Homo sapiens: one gene and its partners. The protein of the gene in region 3 purifies or fractionates together with the protein of the main gene of each other region. This does not show direct contact. Each region holds a gene or a part of one and is shown on either strand. Other genes may lie near its edges. The genes, in order: ALG9, PRXL2A and GLT6D1.

Region 1 (3,653 bases), on a different chromosome or scaffold from region 3:
CTAGAAACTCCAGCTAGAAGAGAGAAGACATTCTTGACCCAACAGTAGTGAAAGTTCTCCACCATTATGTGGACACTGGGGAAGGCTGTGGTTAAAATGTCTATACCAGTTTCCTTTATGCTTTCTGTGGTTCTGAGAGCATAGGCCCTAAAGTTCTTTGTAGTTTGCTTCATTTGGCCAGAGAAGAGTCCTGTGTAGGTTAAAGGGAAATCTGGTTAAGATGAGTCATGTTGCTCCATTTGAGAAATGGCTTCAGTAGCTTGGCTTTACTGGGTAGTAGTTTCTTATGCTTCATAAAGACCCTGTGTCAGTCATTAATGATTAAATTAAAACTTGTTTTTTAAGTGTTGACTTTAGCCTTTGCCTTTTACGTTTGAAATAGTTTTATAGATAAAGATATGTTTGAGGGTTACTCCGGAACAAAGTATTTCTCCCATAGTGTGTTCTCAGTGCCATATATTACATTTCATTCTTTTTCTCTACACCTGATAATTTGCTTTATTTGATAAGTCTCTCTGCCCACATAGTAATTGACAATAAGCATTGGCACTTCTCTGGTTTTTTGATGATATGACCATTTGGTTGTGAATTTCACTGCTAACAGTTGGTGAAATGGGTCAAGAGACATCTAATTATAAATTTCTCAATGATTTTGGACTGACTTGTGACCTCTGCCTCTGTGCTCCCTGGTTGAGGTTTTAGCAGAAATATTTTTTCTTCAAGAGAAATGTTTTTCACATGATTTTCCTGGCTTGTTTGTTTCAAGTACATTTAGCAATATTATCCCCCTGTGTTTTTCTTATTCTCCTTGTGTTTCTGACAGTTGGCAGCTTCAGTTCATTCCATCAGAGTTCAGAGGTCAGTTACCAAAACCTTTTGCAGAAGGACCTCTGGCCACCCGGATTGTTCCTACTGACATGAATGACCAGAATCTAGAAGAGCCATCCAGATATGTAAGGGCTACATTCTCTTCTTGCTTCTCTGAAAAGAATTCTATGCCTAAAAGTCTGTTGGTGTGTATATTAGAGCATTGATAAAATGAGAATTTCTTAGAAAGCAATTTTTTTAAGGCCGGGTGCTGTGGCTCACACCTGTAATCCCAGCACTTTGGGAGACGGGCGGGATAATTGCTTGAATTCAGAAGTTCGAGACCAGCCTGGGCAACATAGCAAGATCACATTTCTACAAAAAATTAAAAAATAAGCCAGGTGTGGTGGCTTATGCCTGTAATCCCAGCCTTTCAGAAGGCTGAGGCAGGAGGATCACTTGAGCCTCGGAGTTCAAGGCTGCAGTAGGCCATGATTCCGCTACTGCACTCCAGCCTGGGCAACAGAGTGAGACCCTGTCTCAGAAAAAAACCGGATATTTTTTAGGATGAGGGGTATAACAGCTTTTGTTGAAAAACAGTAAACAGTATCACTTTTATTTTCAAATTAACCTCTTTATTTTCTATGTAAAATGTATAATTTAATTTTGAAGGTTTTGGGTAGGCTGAAAGTTTTCTTACGGTAGAAGTTTGAACCATTATTCTGAAACTCATATCATTCCTTGGCCTATTAAAATCCTTAATGAGGAACTTTCAAGTTATCAGGTGGACCTTTGACCTAGCTATTAGTATATTCCGGTTTTAACAAATGAACAGTAAAGACTGTTTCCATACTGAATGCCAGGGAGCAGCCTCTGTCAGGGCCATGATCTTCTCCCTACTTGTCTTTACACATTCTGAGATCCCATGCGAATTTTACTTCAGTTCCTTTGAAAGATGACACTTTTGACATTTGATACCTGTGAAATCTTTGATAATGAAAAAGGTAAGAAGTAATAAAGATAATGCTCCTTTTGGGTCACAAAGACAGTGTAAGATCGTTGTCTAGAATTATTAGAAAGCACATTTTTTGATAACCTGATAACCTGTCCGTTAAAGAAATATGTAACAGTTTAAATGTCAGCTATATTTAATTTACATTTTCTTATGTCATATGCTTAAAATGTAAAATAGCAAGACTTCCAATTCTCTTCTGAAGCAAACCTGCAGCCACATCTGGTCTTTTGTCTCCCAGATTGGGGCTGGTTAGAGTTCCATGGAGACCCTCAGGGTTTATGAGTGAGATTCTTATTGTATGAGCTGTAACTATAAGCTATGAAAATGGACACTTAAAGACACAGCCTTGAGCTGTTCCCTTGTAAGACAGGCGTTTCTGCCACATGGATTGTATTAGAGCTTTATTCTTTTAATTTAAGGCTCTGATTCCTGTTACAATGGAAATACCCTTGGGCAGGGTAGACTGTTACAGGTCATTTTAATTTTATCTGCAGATATGAGTCTCCTGAGTGCAGGGCATCATTCTAGAGAAGCTGGACAGTCAAAGGGTGGGAAAATACACTGTCATAGGGGGACAGTATGAATTCAGAGTGATGTTATCGGAGCTTTGCTTTAGGAAGAGGTAGTAAAAATGGAGTAGTAAAAAAAAGAGCGTGGACTTTGGAGTTGAGTAGGCCTGCATTCAAACCTCAGCTCTGTTGCTAAACTTGATAACCTTGGGCAAATTAGTTAGCTTCTCTGTTTAATTTCAGTTTCTGTCTGTAAAATGGCACCTACTTTGGAATTATGATATTTGATATTATATCTCTCTGTAGCAAAAATGCAATGTTCTTATGCTTGCACAAGTGTTCTTAATCTGATAATGGTATATTAGACAGATTCCAGGTAAAGAAACCCAATCTCTCCCCTTCCTTCTTTTTATTGTTTCCCATCCTTGTAATTTTATTCCAGTGTCTCCAGACTCATCATTGCGTTTTCCACCCCAGTGACTTCGCTTATATTGGTGACTATGCCTGAACTACCCTTGTGTCTCTTCTCACACTATCAAAATTATCTTCCTCTTTGAAGTGAACTATTTAAGTCCATATTGAGCAGACCTTCCTTTAAGTGTCTTCAGTATTTATCTGTGCAGTTCATTTAGCCATTTAATTTTCTTGGTCTTAGTTAAATATTTCTGATATCATATCTTTCCACATCAAATATGTGAATGCCATGAAGAGAATGACTGCACTTTGTTTCTTTTGTGTTCACCATAGTGTCTAGGACGGTGTCATGTACCCAGTAGTTCACTTTTACATGCTTTCTCAGTGGATAATGAATATTCATCGTCATTGTGGTAATGATGTTGAGAGAAAGCTGGCTAGAAAATCTACAGTGGCCTTTTGCACATTTCTTAGGCTTTTATCACTGGTTGTCTTAGTTAGATCATATTTCCATATTCTCTGCTGTCAGACAGTGTTAAATTTGATTAAATGACTCTATATGAGCTTTACCCGAAAGGTGATGATTTTTCAGGATGCCAGTAGGAGTCACCAAAATGCTGGCTGATAAAAGCAGGGAAAAACAAGTGATTTATGTCTGCTGGGTAGCAGCTGTGTCCAGCCCTTTGAATGCGAGGATTTTTTTGCTTATCTGTGGTGGCAGAATCATGAAAATTAGGCATGGACCTTTAGCTCTGGGTGGCAGGTTTTAGCCAGCCTTTGGCTTCAATGCTAAGTGCTCCAGCCTGTCCCGTTTCTATTGTGCATGGAAACGAGGAAAGTTGTATGACTTTTTTTATTTCACTATTTTCTTTACCTCTGGGCTAATCAAGAATTAGGAGTGAATAAGT
Region 2 (3,653 bases), on a different chromosome or scaffold from region 3:
AGGTCCCTCCCACCATGAAAATCTTTTTTCTAACCTGAACATTCAGAAGTGGGACATTTCTGGAAAAATGGCCATTTTGTCTATTGCTGATGTCATCAGATATTGTATAATAATCCTTCAGAACAGAAACATGGCCCAAACTGAAAAAGTCTCAAATTTTTAACCTAAATATGTTACCTGCAATATTATTAACGAAGGAGAGGATAGAAGATGCCTAGGAATAAAATGCTTTGGGGTAGTACAGTACTGTAGTTCAACAAGCCCAGCTCTAAGGTCCAACTGAATCTGAATCTAGCTGTGTAACTCTGGGCAAGTTATTTTTGCTCTTTGAACCTCAGCTTCCTCATTTGTAAAATGCAAATATCTAGTAGCTCCACTTTGGGCCACAGGGCATATTGAAAGATGAATATAAAAGTGCTCACCACAATGTCTGGTAATATAGAGTTGGTGAGGGCTCAATAAATATGAGCCCTTAATTATTTTAGTATTTCCCAGAGGGATCCATGTTCCCGTAGATGTTATGTGGAAAAAAAAAAAATGGGGTCAGGTGGGTGAGAGGGTGGGGAGAAGAGTCTGTAATCAAATAAGATTGGGAAACCCTGGGTTGAACAAAGCTTAACAGGTCTCTCTCTCTCCTAGTATCTTACTAAGGTGACCTACTATAAACCTGCACAATCTCCTGCCTTCCTTTCGCAAGCTTCCTTACTTACTAAACAGATGACGATGACTTCCACCTGGGGGGCTAACATGGTGACCACGCCATCAATGAGACCTTCACCACTCCAACTCTCTTGCCACACCACTGGCATGACTGAAATCCCACCAAGCTACAGCTCTAACACTGAGAGCACACAGCAAGGAGGCAGAGCTAACACATTTGGGTGTGTGGCTCTAAGCTGTCCACAATGGATTCTAGCAGTCCCCCAGAAGAGGGAGATAGGCAGGTCTGCTCTAACGGGTGACCTTGAAGTGATTCCTCAGACACCACAGCTTCTTCACAGGGAGGGGCTGGCCATGCCTGAATCAGCAGCAATCCAGACACCTCATTCTAATAAGCATATGTCTGTGCTGAGCATCAGGAGCATGGAATTGGATAAAAGGTGTCTCCCATACTTGTTCACTCAGGAACTCCTTTTAGTTTGACGATCCCACAAGCCTGGAATTCCTCAGAATACACTCTGGAAGCACTGGTTTAGTAAAAGATTGTAATTATTACTAAATATTATGGAGCAATTTATCATTATAATTACAGAGACAACAACAGAGAATGAGAAATGCTTTTGATAAGAAAAGCTAAAATGTAAAACAGCACCTAAGCCAAGCACAACTACGTAATATGTACACATGGAAAGGAATATGCCAAAATCAAAATTACTGTGTTAGGGTAACAGAATTATTCCTAGTTTAAAAATTGTTATTAAATTTTTCCTAATGTTGTTATATTATCTTTTCAATTAAAAAAAGGAGAGAGTTTAGAAAGAAAGCAGTAAGCCTGTATCCCAGCTCCTTGGAAAAGTACTGAGACCTGAAGGGTCACCACTTACCCTTCTCCAGTGTTTTCAGGTCTATATCCTCCAGGTACTCCAGGGCCGCTTTCTGGGGCTTGGACAGAAACACGTCTGTGTTGGCAAGCAGCAATGCCAAGGCAGCAGCCCCCAGGGCTCCTGCACCAATGGACCACATCCCCATGGTGAAGAAACTTGGGTCCTGGAGGAAAGACATTTCTGGAGATTGAGAAGAAGGAAGAAGGCGTTACTGCTCCCACAGGGTAGCTGGAATTTCATCTTCCAGGCAAGGCTCTGGCAGGACAGCCAACCAGGAGGTCAGGACAGGGGAAGGGAGCAGCAGTGTCACAGGCGAGACTGGACAAGGGCTGCTAAGCACCTGCTGCCACCAGAACTTGGGGATGCAGCACACACATGGAGGTTCCTGCACCGTGGAGCTCACCAGGGCATCAGGAGTGATGACAGAGAAAGGACAGCCTTCTCAAATGGTTCTCTTGCTGCTCTCTCTTCTCATGCCCCAAGTTGCAGCCCCTAGCTCTGTGGAGCTGTGCCGAGCTATGTCCCCTGTAGGCAGACTACTTCCTCATTCCCCTCCTCATCAATGCCTGATTCTCCCTCACAATCCAGGTGGCTCAGGATCATGTCCCTGGGTAGGGGCAGCTTTCTCTTCTGTGATCAGAGGATACTTAGAACACCAACCGCACTGTTTTGTTCCCCTATCTTCTTTCCTCTTTAGTTTGACGACCCTCCAAAAACAGGGACCATATCCTACTCATCAAGCCCCCAGCCAGTGCCCAGCAGGGCCTCATTCATTATAGGCAGGCAGTAATTTCTCCCAATTGAGAAGAGCTTTATTTCTCCCTTATATAAAAACAAAATATGCTTATAGTAAAAAACAAAACAGAGAATACATGAAACCATAGTCGATAAGAAAGCAAATACTCTCTGAAGCTACCACCTACTGATGGCCACTGTTAAACACTGGTGTTTAGTAATCTGACTTTTTTCTCCTGTGAACAGAACTACACAGATGTCTGCCAAACAAATGCAGGTGTTATATCAGAAAGAGGAGGTCCTGGCAGGGCGCGGTGGCTCATGCCTGTAATCCCAGCACTTTGGGAGGCCGAGGTGGGCGGATCACCTGAGGTCGGGAGTTCGAGACCAGCCTGACTAACATGAAGAAACCTCATCTCTACTAAAAATACAAAATTAGCCGGGCGTGGTGGTGCGTGCCTGTAATCCCAGCTTCTCGGGGGTGCTGAGGCAGGAGAATCGCTTGAACCTGGGAGGCGGAGGTTGCGGTGAGCCGAGATCGTGCCATTGCACTTCAGCCTGGGCAACAAGAGTGAAACTCCGTCTCAAAAAAAAAAAAGAAAAAAAAAAAAAGAAAGAGGAAGTCCTGGCAGGGCACGGTGGGTCATGCCTGTAATCCCAGCACTTTGGGAGGCCGAGGCAGGTGAATCACGAGGTCAAGAGATGGAGACCATCCTGGCCAACACAGTGAAACCCTGTCTCTACTAAAAATACAAAAATTAGCTGGGCATGGTGGCGCATGCCTATAATCCCAGCTATTTGGGAGGCTGAGGGAGGAGAATCGCCTGAACCCGGGAGGCGGAGGTTGCAGTGAGCTGAGATTGTGCCACTGCATTCCAGTCTGGTCATAGAGCAAGACTCAGTCTCAAAAAAAAAGAAAGAAAAGAAAAGAAAGAGGAGGTCCTATGGCATCTGCAGAGGAGGCTGGGCAAAAGACAGCTGCATAAGATAAAGGTCTCTGCAACTGAAATGGAGCTCCAGGCGGGTTCTGTCAGAATTCAGCCTTGTTCCTGGCTTCTTCTGCCAGCTAGGAAGACTTGTGCCTGTGGGTGGGAGCTCCTGGAAGCAGCCCACAAAGTACCCCCACCTCCAGCCTTCCTTCTCCCAACAACCACTTACAATATCTATCTTTCCATTTGGTCCTCACGCCATCCTAAGCTCTGGCATACACTGGTGCCTTCTTCCCTAAGTACCAGCCTGCTTCTGTGTGCTTAGATCACCGGGAATAGGCCTGGGAGTGGGTGTGGTAATTGTGTGGCCCACCTCACCCCAGCCCATCGAACCTCTGACTCAAGTCTCCCTTGCAGGACTTGGCCGGGAGAGGATGTCTCTAAA
Region 3 (3,350 bases):
GCATCTGGCAGAGCACCTTTACCGCTGAGCTCAGTAAATATCTTTTTTAAAAAAATAAAATACCTACAGATTTTTTTTTTTTGAGATGGAGTTTCACTCTTGCCACCCAGGCTGGAGTGCAATGGCTCAATCTCGGCTCACTACAACCTCCGCCTCCCAGGTTCAAGCGATTCTCCTGTCTCAGCCTCCTGAGTAGCTGGGATTACAGGCATCCGTCACCACACCCAGCTAATTTTTTGTATTTTTAGTAGAGATGGGGTTTCACCATGTCAGCAAGGCTGGCTGGTCTCGAACTCCTGACCTCAGGTGATCCGCCTGCCTCGGCCTCCCAAAGTGCTGGGATTACAGGCATGAGCTACCACAACCGGCCAATATCTATAGCTTTTTAACAAAAGGAACTGAATATCTCACTTTGAAACCGTAATAGTAAGACGTGGCTTTGGCTGGATTCCTCTAGCTCACCTGTGTCGAATCACACACCGAACAGACTGAGACAATAGGCGAGGTCGACCACAAGCCACACATATCCCAGTGTGGAAAAACACAGTGACTACTCAGTGAGTGGCCTGGCATTTATTTTTTCCTTTGCGTGAACTACTTTTCCATTTTATGAATGTTTTTTCTCAACTAGAGTCTTTCTCCATTAAAAATATTCATTCTATGTCAAATGTATTTTCACATTGTCTACAATACATAGATAATAACATTACTGTGTATTAACATTAAGTAATTATCCTTTTATTCTTTATCCTACATTAGCCAAATAAGATGGCTCAAAATGGCAAGAAGAAACATTTATTTGGGAAGGATGTAAATTTGTATGTCTCTAAAAAATGGAAGGTCTTAAGACTTCCCTCATTTATAAGAAATTGCCGTGATTCATTTATTCGTCATAAACCTCATGGCGTAATTCATAATTTCCTCTGGGAATCATGTGCGACCTTGACGTATTGGATCTGTGGAGGAGGAGAAAATGCAAGATCCCAGCTGTATGCTGGTGATAACAGCTAGGTGGGTTTATTGAGGTAAAAATATTTGTTAAGGTGCTTTTCATAAGTGCTATTGAGTCCATTTTTGATGTCATGAATAACTCCGTTCAGATATTCTTTGATGAAGTCTAAAATATTATGGGGTGTGCCACCAACCATCAAGTTGCCATAATAGAAATCTCCCTGTCCAAACGGGATGCAAGCTGCTGAGGTCGGCCTCCTCTCATAAGGGAAGTTCTTGGTGTTTCTGAAATACCACCAGGCGTGGAGCTGGGCCACCAACGGGCCCAGGGTCTCCACCCCGAACTCATTCTGGAAGACCTGGTTGGCAGCCATGCTGAAGAGGAAGTCCACCTCGTCCTGGATGTGACTGGCGATGTGTTCACCCAGGCTCTTCACATGCACCAGGGGGCCATCGAGCCACCACCTCTCGGTGCCCACTTTAAATGCTTTGAACGTTCGAAGAGGACTGGGCTCTATGTCAGGCAGCTTGAAGAAGGCGTCCACCATGATGTAGAAGATCACTCGGTAGCCTGTCATGAAGTGCTTATTTGCGGAGTGTAGGAACGGCCTCAGGTACTCCTCTGCAAACCTAGGAAACACACAGTGGGGAAGAAACTTACTTTTCTCTTTTTTCTTTTCTTTCTTTTTTTTTTTTTTTTTTTTTTTGAGATGGAGTCTCCCTCTGATGCCCAGGCTGGAGTGCAGTGGCGTGATCTCGGCTCACTGCAACCTCCACCTCCTGGGTCCAAGCAATTCTCCTGCCTCAGCCTCCCAAGTAGCTGGGACTACAGGCACCTGCCACCACGCCCAGGTAATTTTTTTTTTTTTTTTTTTGTATTTTCAGTAGAGATGGTATTTCACCATGTTGGCCAGGCTGGTCTCGAACTCCTGACCTCAGGTGATCCCACCCACCTCGGCGTCCTAAAGTGCTGGGATTACAGGCATAAGCCACTGTGCCCGGCCGACACTTACTTTTCTAAACATGATCAGGAGAAGAGGCGGCTGAATGCACTCACATGGGTGTGTCTGATGCTAAGGAACTCGGGATGTACAAGCGTGGAGGAGTCGGGCCCACAGCTTCAGCTGAGTTGGTGAGTGGGAAGGAATGTCCTGACCTGGAGGGCCTGAGAAAAGCCACCATGTTTTGGAATGGCTGTTGTGAAGAAAGGGAGCAGGAGCTAAATGGGTATGAGTCAAAAGGTTCCCACTGGTGTTAAGGACTCGGCCATCGACAGAGAAACCCAGCACACCTTTTGTACAGGACAGCCAGAAATTGAAGGAAATCGTGTCTATAGTAGACCATCTCCAAGACAAAGGGCCTTAAATCGGCTCAGGTCAGCAAACTACAAAAGAAACAGGATATACTAGGTCCCCACTTAAATAGCCAATGCCTGCTTGTCGGCCTCCTGCCTTAGTTGCCCTCACCCAAACCAAAAAAGTTTAGTCTAAGATAAAACTTTACTAGTCTGCAAAATAGCTCACTTTGTCTGTTCTTATCAGCCTGCTCAGCTACTTAGGTCATAAGTCAGATACTTGAAGAGCCCCTGAGCTCACTAGGATTGCAATGCATTGTGGGCTGCAACAAAATGCAGCAAGACCACCCTAAAGAAAACACCTAAAGCCCCTGCCCAACAACAAATAGGCGACGTCTGGGAAGATTGTGACCCCAAGTACTCAGCCTATGAGGAACTGAGGGAGGGACCTGTGCACTAGGGGATAAATTGCAGTTGAAACTGTGCTGGGTGTGCCTGCCCATCAGACATCCGATCTTGCAAGACTGTCACTAAAAGTCTCACTTTCACTGTTCTCCAGGTCTTTGAGTCCCTTATTTGGGTTTGGACAGGTAAGTTTGTTTCTCCCCAGAAATCGTGGCTATTGTTATCACTAATTATGCTTAATTATGGTTGGCTCTTTGGAGGTTAAAGGCTCGTGAATGCTGATCCACATTTTCCCAAAATAAAAAAGGGCAAAGGTGAGTGGCACCTACCTGCCAGTAGCAAAGACGGCCAGGCCCACAGTGATATTCCGCCTTCTGTAATGTTTTTCCAGGACCCGCCTGTCGAAAGTCCCTTCCCATAGGACAGGAGCGAGCCAGTCTGTTTTCGTTATAACATCAGGGCGTTTTCTGTGGAACAAGAACCAAGTTAAACAGGGAGTGCTTTACTGAGGCGCCGGCAGCAGGTGCCGAGCAGTAATGCCTAATGCTTAGAGAGCACCTAGTGCGCGCCCAGCTCCGTGTTTGAGTGCATCATCCCACTGGATTCATCCTTGCAACGCCCTATGCAATGAGTGCCACCACCCCTGATCTCCACGTGGGGAAGCAGAGGCACACACGGTTGAGTAAGTTGCCTGACACTG

What was found.
Region 1: the proteins of GLT6D1 (region 3) and ALG9 purify together in Homo sapiens (affinity purification with mass spectrometry; one large-scale study listed by BioGRID and IntAct). This does not show direct contact.
Region 2: the proteins of GLT6D1 (region 3) and PRXL2A purify together in Homo sapiens (affinity purification with mass spectrometry; one large-scale study listed by BioGRID and IntAct). This does not show direct contact.

The regions. Positions count from the first base shown.
Region 1 is NC_000011.10:111,833,465-111,837,117, reverse strand, and holds part of ALG9 (alpha-1,2-mannosyltransferase ALG9), read left to right. Parts: intron 1-823; coding exon 824-953; intron 954-3,653. UniProt on the Homo sapiens protein: Mannosyltransferase that operates in the biosynthetic pathway of dolichol-linked oligosaccharides, the glycan precursors employed in protein asparagine (N)-glycosylation.
Region 2 is NC_000010.11:80,418,537-80,422,189, reverse strand, and holds part of PRXL2A (peroxiredoxin-like 2A isoform 1 precursor), read right to left. Parts: intron 2,191-3,653; exon of another isoform or gene 1,725-2,190; 5' UTR 1,723-1,724; coding exon 1,545-1,722; intron 1-1,544. UniProt on the Homo sapiens protein: Involved in redox regulation of the cell. Acts as an antioxidant. Inhibits TNFSF11-induced NFKB1 and JUN activation and osteoclast differentiation. May affect bone resorption and help to maintain bone mass.
Region 3 is NC_000009.12:135,623,090-135,626,439, forward strand, and holds the end of GLT6D1 (putative glycosyltransferase 6 domain-containing protein 1), read right to left. Parts: intron 3,118-3,350; coding exon 2,980-3,117; intron 2,336-2,979; exon of another isoform or gene 2,296-2,335; coding exon of another isoform or gene 2,243-2,295; intron 2,117-2,242; coding exon of another isoform or gene 2,009-2,116; intron 1,582-2,008; coding exon 1,008-1,581; 3' UTR 559-1,007; downstream 1-558.